Homo sapiens: one gene and its partner. The protein of the gene in region 2 purifies or fractionates together with the protein of the main gene of each other region. This does not show direct contact. Each region holds a gene or a part of one and is shown on either strand. Other genes may lie near its edges.

Evidence for each region. The genes of interacting proteins can lie anywhere in the genome.
Region 1: the proteins of SIDT2 (region 2) and LRRC8D purify together in Homo sapiens (affinity purification with mass spectrometry; one large-scale study listed by BioGRID and IntAct). This does not show direct contact.

The regions. Positions count from the first base shown.
Region 1 is NC_000001.11:89,928,311-89,933,575, reverse strand, and holds part of LRRC8D (volume-regulated anion channel subunit LRRC8D), read right to left. Parts: intron 3,769-5,265; exon of another isoform or gene 3,698-3,768; intron 510-3,697; 5' UTR 508-509; coding exon 1-507. UniProt on the Homo sapiens protein: Non-essential component of the volume-regulated anion channel (VRAC, also named VSOAC channel), an anion channel required to maintain a constant cell volume in response to extracellular or intracellular osmotic changes.
Region 2 is NC_000011.10:117,188,145-117,193,409, reverse strand, and holds part of SIDT2 (SID1 transmembrane family member 2 precursor), read right to left. Parts: intron 4,703-5,265; coding exon 4,584-4,702; intron 4,242-4,583; coding exon 4,168-4,241; intron 4,076-4,167; coding exon 4,009-4,075; intron 3,459-4,008; coding exon 3,385-3,458; intron 3,245-3,384; coding exon 3,121-3,244; intron 2,788-3,120; coding exon 2,670-2,787; intron 1,533-2,669; coding exon 1,396-1,532; intron 1,157-1,395; coding exon 1,048-1,156; intron 837-1,047; coding exon 760-836; intron 591-759; coding exon 544-590; intron 258-543; coding exon 152-257; intron 1-151.

The DNA.
Region 1 (5,265 bases), on a different chromosome or scaffold from region 2:
AGCTAGGTATGGAAAGTACTTAGAATACCACGGAAGGGCCAGATGGTAACACATTTGATTAATAAATACATATTGCTGAAAATCCAAGTTTGTTTTTCGACCTGTTGGATCTTTCTTCTCTTTCTTTGCCTCCTGATTTGGAAGTGCGAAATCTGTGCGAGGATATGTGGCTCTGAGAGGTATGTCAGGTGTCACAGCAGATGTCCCAAAGGAAATGTCGTTTGTTGTCCGCCCATCTTGGTCTTGGTTGGTGGCTGCTTCCATCTTTGGGATGTTGGTGGTGACCTCGGCATTTCCTGGTGGTGTATGTGCCTTTGAATTTACAGGAGATGGCAATACTGGCAAACAGACCACCTGATCTTTGGTAAGTTGCATGGTTCCTGCAAAGATGGCTACCATTAACATAACAACAGCTAGGTAATCCATAAACACATCCCACCATGGTTTCAGGATTCGGTAAGTTGGCTGAATGTCATTAAGTGATGCAACTTCCGCAAGGGTAAACATTCCTAGAAAACAAGAAGACAAAAGACATTATTCTAGAGATGCAAATGAAAAGAGTAAATGAGAAAAACCCTATGCCTGCTCCTAACTAAAGTTTTCTCATTCAGGTCCTATCTTTTTATCCAATATAAATGTAGTAGAAAATAAACTAAAAGGGGAATATACAGCTTTTCTCTCCTAGTGCAAGGGAAGAGGGAAAGAATGAGTAAGAATTGCATTCTAGGTAAGAAATTATGACAGACTGCACCAAGTCCATAGTGGTTACTTAGTGGACCTTGAAGGAGGGTATGACAGCAGGATGGCATTTGTTGTGGACTCATTAAAGGTTAAGACTGAAATTTGGAGGTCAAGGAGTGGGATGACTCTTATTTTGTATAAGCCAAAATTGAAAGGTCTGTGTATACCATTAAATACCGTTAAACTTTGGATAGTCTTATGTTCCAGACTTAGTTCTAACACTTACTAATGGTTGATTCCTTAAGCCTTGTGTATTTCCCATCTGTATAATAGGGATGAAAACTTCTAAGGGTTGTTGGAAAGGTTAAATTAAGTAATGATTGTAACGCTCTTAGCACATCCTCTGGCCACAAGTGTTTGTTAGCTGTTTACGTTAGCTCCAATCACTCTGGTGGAAGTGTCCATGAACAGTTGAAACTAAGGGTCTAGCGTTTAGGAGGAGTCTTACTATACACACTTGGGATTTATCAATATATATAGCTGAAACTCTGGCCTTTGATGCAGTCCTATGGAAAGCATGTGGATTGAGAAGACAGCTCAAGACTCAGGTGGCCATGAAATAATCAATGATGGTGATGCTGAATAAGTCAGCACCAGGAAGACATACGATCTCTACCAAAGCAGGTGACCCGAGCAGCCATGAATGAAGCCCCGGTGCCAGGAAACTTGAAAATGTGGTTATTATTCACTATCAGCTGACAGCTTTATAGCACGGAACTAGTTTATACAAATAATAAAGGACAAGGACAATCATCCTGGAAGTAACCAAGAAAAACAGTGTTTCTAGTGGCAAGTAATGGGAATGGGCTTCTCTAATTATGTGCATGAACTGAATGTTTCAACTTCTTGAAAAACCACATGACCATATTTTCATTTCTTGAGAGGTTCTTGGGTTTCCATATTTATATTGCTTTGTCTTTTTTAAAGAAAGAAATCATGTTATTTCTTTAAAAACTAGCAAAAGACCAAGCAATAAAAATCAAGGCAAGTACCCAAGAGTTTTGGGAATGCATGTATTTTTTTAAATTAAGGATGGAAGATGAATTTTTAATATTTTTATTTATTTATTTATTTTTGAGACAGAGCCTCACTCTGTCACCCAGGCTAGAGTGCAGTGGCGCGATCTCAGCTCACTGCAACCTCTGCCTCCTTGGTTCAAGCGATTCTCCTGCCTCAGCCTCCCGAGTAGCTGGGACTACAGGCATCCACCACCACACCCACCTAATTTTTGTATTTTTAGTAGAGACAGGGTTTCACCATATTGGCCAGGCTGGTCTCGAACTCCTGACCTTGTGATCTGCCCACCTTGGCCTCCCAAAGTGCTGGGATTACAGGTGTGAGCCACCACACCCAACCAGGAAGATGAATTATCTATTCATGGGTTGTCTGGAATGCTGTGTTGAGGAGGATTCTGAGGCTGATTCTGGTTTCAGTAGGAAACAGTGCTGTGACTGATTACTTGTGTCTTCCTTGGATGACACAATGAAGAAAGGTGGCATTAGTACTTTGATTCTGCTCTGTTTTAAATTAAGTTTCTGAAGGCAGGGACCAGGTCTTTTTTTTTTTTTTTTTTTTTCCGAAACCCTTCCACATACCTAGTACTGCACAGAGTAGGTTCATAATATTTTTTAATAAAATACAATGAATACTACAGCAATGATCACATCTGTAGTTAGTTTTGTAAGCAAAATTATCTCTTATGTAAGCAGGTAAACACAAGTCTAAGAACTCCAAACATAAAATTGTTAGAAATCACATTCCCAGACTTCAGGGCTTAAGTATGAAATGCCTGGTAACCAGTCTTTGTAAAAAAAAAAAAAAAAAAAAAAAATTACCAAGGAAGTGAAAAAAAGAAAAATAACTTTGTACCTTAGTAGGGGAAGTGGGAGATAACACGCCCACTTGAACTCCTTTTATTCTGAGCTCCTGTATCTTGTGTGGGTTTTGCTTTCATGAATGGCTTGGATAAGCAGGAAGAAAAGCTACTGGAATCACAGCAAGCTAACCTAAATGAGAAACAGCTCAACCTCATGTCATTTTGAGCTCTTCAGTTCCTATCTAGAATGCACAAAACACAGCATCAAGCACAGAATGACTCTTACTTCACATACAGAGACTAGAGAGTACACCTTGCACAGGTTTATTTCTGGCAAGGAACGTAACAGTCATACCTGGGGACCATGGCTTTAAAGGGCCATCTGCATGAGTAATAGGAACAATAGATTTTTTTGCATGTAATAGTTCTTTCAAATAGGATTTTTCTTTACTTTTTAAAAAGAGTCATGAACTGCATAATGGTGTTTTGGTCAACAATGGACTGCATATATGATGGTGGTCCCATAAGATACGAGATGGTGGCTCATGCCTATAATCCCAGCACTTTGGGAGGCCGAGGTGGGTGGATCATTTGAGGCGGAGTTTGAGACCAGCCTGGCGAATATGGTGAAACCCCATCTCTACTAAAAATACAAAAATTAGCCAGGCATAGTGGTTCACGCTTTAATCCCAGCTACTTGGGAGGCTGAGGCAGAAAAATTGCTTGAACCCAGGAGGAGGAGGTTGCAGTGAGCCAAGATCACACCACTGCACTCCAGCCTGGGTGACAGAGTGAGACTCCATTTTATAATGAAGTACATAGAAACCTGATACAGAGCACTAATCACTGGCATTACAGATCAAGTAGGGCAGCGGTCCTCAACCTTTTTGGCACCACAGACAAGTTTTGTAGAAGACAATTTTTCCAGAAATGGGGGTTGGGGGGAGAGATGGTTTTGGGATGAAACTGTTTCATCTTGGTTGGATCATCAGGCATTAGATTCTCACAAGGTGTGCACAACCTAGATCCCTCACATGAGCAGTTCATGATAGGATTCATGCTACTATGAGAATCTAATGCTGCTGCTGATCTGACACAAAACGGAGCTCAGGCAGTAATGCTCACTCTCCCGCCGCTCACCTACTGCCGTGAAGCCCAGTTCCTAACAGCTCTCGACAGGTACCAGTCTGCAGCCTGGGGCCCGGGGACTCCTGAAGTAGGGGAAAGGACTGATATTCAGTAATGATGTTGGGAATTTGGTTTTCCATATGAATACATACATACATGCATATACACACACACACCATCTAGCTTTGTGTAAGTACACTCTGATATTTACACAACAATGAAATTGCCTAACAATACATTTCTCAGAAGGTATCCCCATGAAGAGACATGTGACTGTAATTGTATCTGGTTCTAGGGAGGCCAGGATGTCTGGCTTGGCAGATTGAGAGATAAGTGAATTTTGAAAGTCAGTGTACTGAGGACATTGGTTATTTGTCTTTTACACCATGATTATTACAACTGGTCTTTCTGCTGCCAGTCTTTACCTCCTTTAATCCCTTTTCCATCTTGCCATGGGTCCCTTGGTAAAAACTCTTCAGGCTCTCTCTGTTCCAGGCCAGTAACTTCTGCCAGTTTCTCTAACAAGCCATTCTCTCCCTTGTGTTCAGCCTCTCCAACACTTTGTTTCCTCTGCCTTGATTACTTCCTCCCTACTCCTCTTCACTAGGCTATCAGGTTTCTGCAGCCTTTTCCAGAAAGCCTTCCCTGATCTCCTAGTATGGGTGAGGTGTTTCTTCCATGTGTTCCCACAATACTCTGTACCTCCGCCCATCACAGCCCTTATCACACTGTATTTACTTGTCTGATCTCCCATTGGATTACCAATTCAATGAAGATATGCACTATGCCCACTTCCTTCTTTGTCCTATGTATCCAATGCCTGACACATAGTAGGTACTTAATCAATGAAATGATTTTGAGATCTTGATCATCATCTTCAGCATCCTAAAAATTCCTTGAGAACATTTATTAACATCTACAGATGGTATTGGGCAGAGGAGCATTTTATTAACCTGAATTGCTACCACAAAGCAACCTGGATCTATGCAAGAATGAACACTCTAAGCCAGGTCCCAGCATAAAAATAAACAGTTAAAGGACCACACAGCAGAGACATTGTTGGATTCTTGCAACCAGTGTTATTTTGCAGCTGTTGAAGTGTCAATGGTAGTTTTCAAGCACCTTGTACTCAGGACAGGCTTTGATCCCAGGAAATAGAAGAGGCTGTCCACCTTCCCAGTGGGAAAAGAAAAGTTCAAAGGTAGTGGCAGTGGGCATAGCAACAGAGTACAGAGTACTGTAACTTCACACACAGTCACCAGCTCCGGCCCCAGACTCCCCGCAAGAATGGTAACACTGAATAACAGACAGCACATGACCACTCCAACCTCAGATGAGCTCCTCTCTTCCAGCACATTGTCTACTCTGCCACCCCCCACCAGAAGTTTTGTGCCCTTGCTGTTTTCTCCAGCCCATTTTTCTTTTTTCTTTCTATTGAACTTTTCCTTATTAAGTCCCAGCTCAAGCACTACCTTTTCCTTCAAATTGCTATCATGTTGTCTAATAATAATGTGTTTGTAGGCCGGGCATGGTGGCTCACGTCTATAATCCCAGCACTTTGGGAGGCCGAGGTGGGCAGA
Region 2 (5,265 bases):
AGGGGCCCATGCAAGAGGCTTTAGCCTCTCCCCTCCGCAACCAGCAAAGATGGGACAGAAAACTTCTCACTGCCCCTCAATGCTGCCGGGCCCATCTCTCTCCCCAGATAGCAGAGCAGCTGACAGAGGGGGCTTGGCCAGCCCCACTCACCTTCATGATGATGTAGAAGGCGAAGTAAAGGAGCAGGTTGCAGATGCCAATGGCCAACAAGTAGGAAGCGAAATCATTGGGGCGCATGATAAGCCCATAGGCAGCCCTGGCAAGAGGGATGAAGGGTGGTGAAGCAGGAAGCCCAAGGGCAAGGAAGTGCTCTTCCTGCCCTGCCTAGGCATGTTTTATTATGATGTTGGGCTGTGTTCAGAAGCCCACAGAAGATTCTAGAAGCCCAGATGCCAAGAGAGAGAAGAGAGGCCAAGATCTCTCTTAGCCCCCATGTCTTATGCCCAACATTTGGAAGTTGTCCTTAGCCCCCAAGGCAGCCAGTGGCTGACCGAGTCCCCAGCTGTCCACCCAACCAGGCCACTACTGCTGACCATACTCACAGCGACCAGTTGATGACGTTGCCCATGACCAGCAGCACCATGCGGTCCTGGAGGGAAGCAGGGACACAGGGACTGAGGGCAGGGGCAGGGAGGGTGGTGGAAGAAGGCCCAGCCAGCTGGTCCCCACTCTCCCCTGGGTCCTCAGCCCAGCCCCACTCCCCCATCAGAGGGAAGAAAGGAGATGTGGAGAATGGAGCAGGGGAACCAGGCAGGTACCACGTAGAGCGGCCCGCTGCACTGCCGGATGCAGTCTGTGTAGAGCACGTGGAGGATGCGGCGGAAGATCCCCGAGTCTGCGAAGAGAAGGGAGTGGTGCTGACAGGCACGGGGCACCCTCCTTTGCTGGACCCCTGGGATGTGCCAGCTGAGGAGCCCAGGCCTGATCTAATTCCTCACCCAGTGACTCCAGGGCCCCCAAGACAGAACCTGAGCGTCTCCCGTGCGTCCGGGTTCCCAAGGCCCCCCAGACCCCTCCCCCAGGCCCTGCCCCGGGCGTGCCCTTACCCAGTTTCCACCGGCCCATGTAATAGAGCTGCGTGCTGAGGAGCAGGGTGGCGATGATGTGAATGATGGAGAAGACGATCCAGAACGCCGTGTTCCCTTTGCCAAAGACCTGTCGGGAGGCCACCAAGGGCAGCGGTGAGGGTGGAGAGGGAAGTGGCTCGGATGGCCCACCCTTCCTGGGGCTGGCTGCTCAGCCAGGCTGGGACTCTGAGAGGGGCCCAGGAAGGCATCTCAGGGAAGGAGCAGGAATCTCTCATGCAGGAGGTGGCGGAGGGTGTGCACTACGTGTCTGAACGCACGTGCACCTTTCCTATCATACAGGCTGAGCAGAGCAGGTCAGGCCCTCACCACGCCCAGCACAGAGAAGAAGATGACAATGGCCAGGCAGGCGTAGGCACTGTAGGCGCTGGCGTTGATGTCCGGGTGCCGCTTCTGGTAGAGCTTCAGCATGCAGAGTCCGGCGATCATGTACATGAACGATGTGTCTAGGATGAGGGACACGGAAGGGAGCTGCAGAAATGGCCACCAAGCCCCAGCAGAGAACTCCTGGCCCCAACAATCCCAGAGGAAGAGAGAGCCCTGGTGCCCCACCACGGCCATGGTGTGAGCTGGTGGCAGGGTGGCACTTGAACTTCAGTTCCTTAGTTGTACCTGCCACACCACACTGCCACCCCACTGGCTGTCACCCAGAGTCTGACATCTCCTGAAAACAGGGACAACTTGGTCTGTGTCTTAGTCTGTGAGCACCCTGAGATCAGGGACTCCCTTTTATTTTTTTGGAGACGGAGTCTCACTCTGTCGCCCAGGCTGGCGTGCAATGGTGGGATCTCGGCTCACTGCAACCTCCGCTTCCTGGGCTCAAGCAATTCTCCTGCCTCAGCCCCCTGAGTAGCTGAGATTACAGGCATGCACCACCACACCCAGCTAATCTTTGCATTTTTAGTAGAGATGGGGTTTCACCATGTTGGCCCGGCTGATCTCAAACTCCCCACCTTGGGCGATCCCCCCGCCTCAGCCTCCCAAAGTGCTAGGATTACAGGCATGAGCCACAGTGCCCAGCCAGGGCCCCCTTCTTTTTTTTTTTTTTGAGACGGAGTCTCGCTCTGTTGCCCAGGCTAGAGCGCAGGGCGTGATCTTGGCTCATTGCAAACTCTGCCTCCCGGATTCATGCCATTCTCCTGCCTCAGCCTCCCGAGCAGCTGGGACTACAGGCGCCTGCCACTGTGCCCGGCTAATTTTTTGTATTTTTAGTAGAGACGGGGTTTCACCATGTTAGCCAGGATGGTCTGGAGCTCCTGACCTCGTGATCCATCTGCCTCGGCCTCCCAAAGTGCTGGGATTACAGGCGTGAGCCACTGCACCCGGCCAGGGACCCCTTCTTAATTATACTGTTTTCTTCACTGCGGCACATGCCTTTACATAGGAATAGCTTGACAGATGAATGAAGCAGCATCTAGGTGCCCATGTTCCATAGGCTAGGATGTGTGCACACCCAGGCACGCCAGCCTTGGAGTTTCCTACAGGGGTGTCTTAGCGATCCCTGTGGGTGACTTGGGGATAGTGAAGGACTCAGGCAGGTCCCTGCTGTAGGTTGAGCCAGAAAAGAAGGACGCCCCACTCACCAAACTGGAAATTGGTATAGTTGGGGCACACATGATAGCAAGCACTGAGCAGCCCCTCCATCATCAGGGCTGTGCCCATGGCGTAGAAAAGCCCAAAGTGTTTGGGGATCCCACATTCCTGTTGGGGAGAGAGAGAAGGGAAGGGAGGGAGGAAGTGAGGCAGGAAGGGAAGAAGGGACCCAAAAGAGGGACCCTAAGAGGAGTGGAAGAGGAAAAGGGGTGGGGTATGTGTCGAGTGTGGGTGTGCAGGGGTGGGCTGGCCTGGGCAGGCTGGCAAGGGAGGGCAGGGCAGGGTGGGGCAGGCTGGGCTGGATAGGGTGGGCCAGACAGAACTGGGGAGGGGAGAGCTGGGGAAGGCAGGGCCAGGCCTGCCCAAAAGGGTGTCCTGGAGCCAAGGCTTGAGGTCTGTGCTGGAGCTGAGGCTGCGGCAGGCAGGCAGGTGCTCCCTTACCAGGGCACAGAGGTCATTGCGCAGCAGGGCCCGGTTGTGGTTGATCTCCCGTTGCAGGATGATGAGCAGGAAAAGCAGCCCCAGCAGGATGTACCCCAGGTTGCTGAGGATGTTGTTGAAGGCGCTAGAAGGGGCAACACAAGGCAGACTGCTTGGGACTCACACCCAGGCCTCTTCCCTAGCCCACGTGGGCATTGCAAAGCCCCAGGCCCTGCCCCATTTCACCCTTGGCCTGGACAAGGGGCCTCCCAGCATGACCCCCACCTGAGATTGCCCAGTGGGTGGGCGCAGAGGAAGTTGTAGTAGCAGATGTCCTGATTCCCTGTGACATTCACCACCTGTAGCAGGAGCAGGGACAGGGAGTGGGTCTGTCGTCACGCCCAACTCAGCCCACGCCCCGCCATCCGGGCCCCTTTGGCAAAAAACAGCAAGTGCCACCACAGCTAGCAGGTGGGAATACACAGCACCGCAGGCACGTGTTCCTTCTGAGAACATGGATGCCATGCAGCACAGTCGCTGTCCCCTCTCATTAGGCGTGGCTGAAAACCCTGAGGCATGACCGTGATGGAAGTTCTTGCCCCACGGGACAGAGAAAAGGGAAGGGAAACTGATGCTTACAAAGCCCCAGGACTTTGGTTTCATAATCCGCACAAGAAACCAGGGAGGGGCTATCTTTAGTGCGGGCTGCTCCCATTTTGCAGATGAAGAAACTGACACTCAGGGTTGGGGGGGTTATGTGATTTGCCCTGGGTCACTCGGCTGGGAAGGCAGAGCTGGGATCTGAACCCAGGTCCTGTGATGGAACACCAGGGCCCCAGGCTGGGAGGCTCTGCACTTTGGGGCGGTGTCCTAGGCTGTCGGAAAGGTGAACCTGCCCTGCCCTCTCACCGTCTGGTAGGTGATCACCAGCTGCACCACAGGAAGGGCATAGAAGACAGCAATGGTGGCAATGTTCCTGCGGAGCAGGAGGGCGGCAGTGAGGTGGGTGGCACCCAAGGCTGCCACACACCCACCAACAGCAGAGCCCCAGACACTCAGCCCACTCACCAGAAGTAGATCTGGTACTTTTTCCGCAGAACACGCTTGTCCTTCCGTGCCAGGTCAGCCACATAGAGGTATTGCTGGGGAGAAGCTGGAATCAGCCCCACTTACTGCTACTTGGGAGAAGCCCCCTCCCCCAGGTTAGAGGTGGACAAGAGGGGCCTCCCTCACACAGGGCCGAATTCAGGGGGGCAGGGTTCAAGGACATCCCACTGCTGCGGCCGCTTAGACCAAGAGGGTTTGGCCAATCAGGCCGGAAGGGGTTGGAGGTCAGGTTAGTTTCCCCGGCATCTGCCCTGCCCCAGCTGAGCCCCTTCCTTCTGCTTCCCTAAATGCCACGTCAGTGGGAACATGCTGGGGCGGGAACGCAGAATGTCCCTTTCTCAGGAAACGCCTGACCAGGCCAGGCCCACGGGTCAGACCTTGGTGCGAATGACATTCTTGTCGGAATCGATGTCGGTCAATGTGTCGTAGTCATCCTCCTCCACAGAGCTCATGGAGTCCACTCGGGGCCGAGTACCTACAGGTTCAAAGGAGCGGCCTGGAAAGGGCAGGGAGGGAGGGGTTGCACCGGTGGACACAAAACCCACAGTGGCCCTCGCCCATCTGAGGCAATTGTAACAATTATTAGGCAGTAGGGAAGAGGCAAATTGTGGGCTGGGCCTCAGAGTTGGGGTGGAAGTGGGCTCAGGAGCTGGGAGGAGACATCAGGTGCTCCTAAGTCCTGGGGGATGATGGTAGACTCTAGAAGAGGCCACCACACAGGGGCCGCTCTAGCTTTGCTCTGTTCCTGGCACCCCTCATGGGCTAGGGCTTCCCAGGCCAGGACACAAGGCAGACCCCAGGCAGCAGACACAAACAACAGGATTGAACTCGGCAAGTCATGCTGATTCAAGGGTGCCCAGCCCTGTGGGTTCTGAGAAGACACTGCCTTGGCTGCCACTGGGTTAAAGACCCAGTGGGCCTGGGGTGCAGAAAGAGCATTTCTCCTTTATCCAGAGGCCAGAATGTGACCCCCATGCCTGTGAGCCCTCCCCAAGCAGGCCAGGGAGTGAGGGCGCTGGCAACGCAGACGATAAACTAGATTGTCCAGCCTGGAGAGAG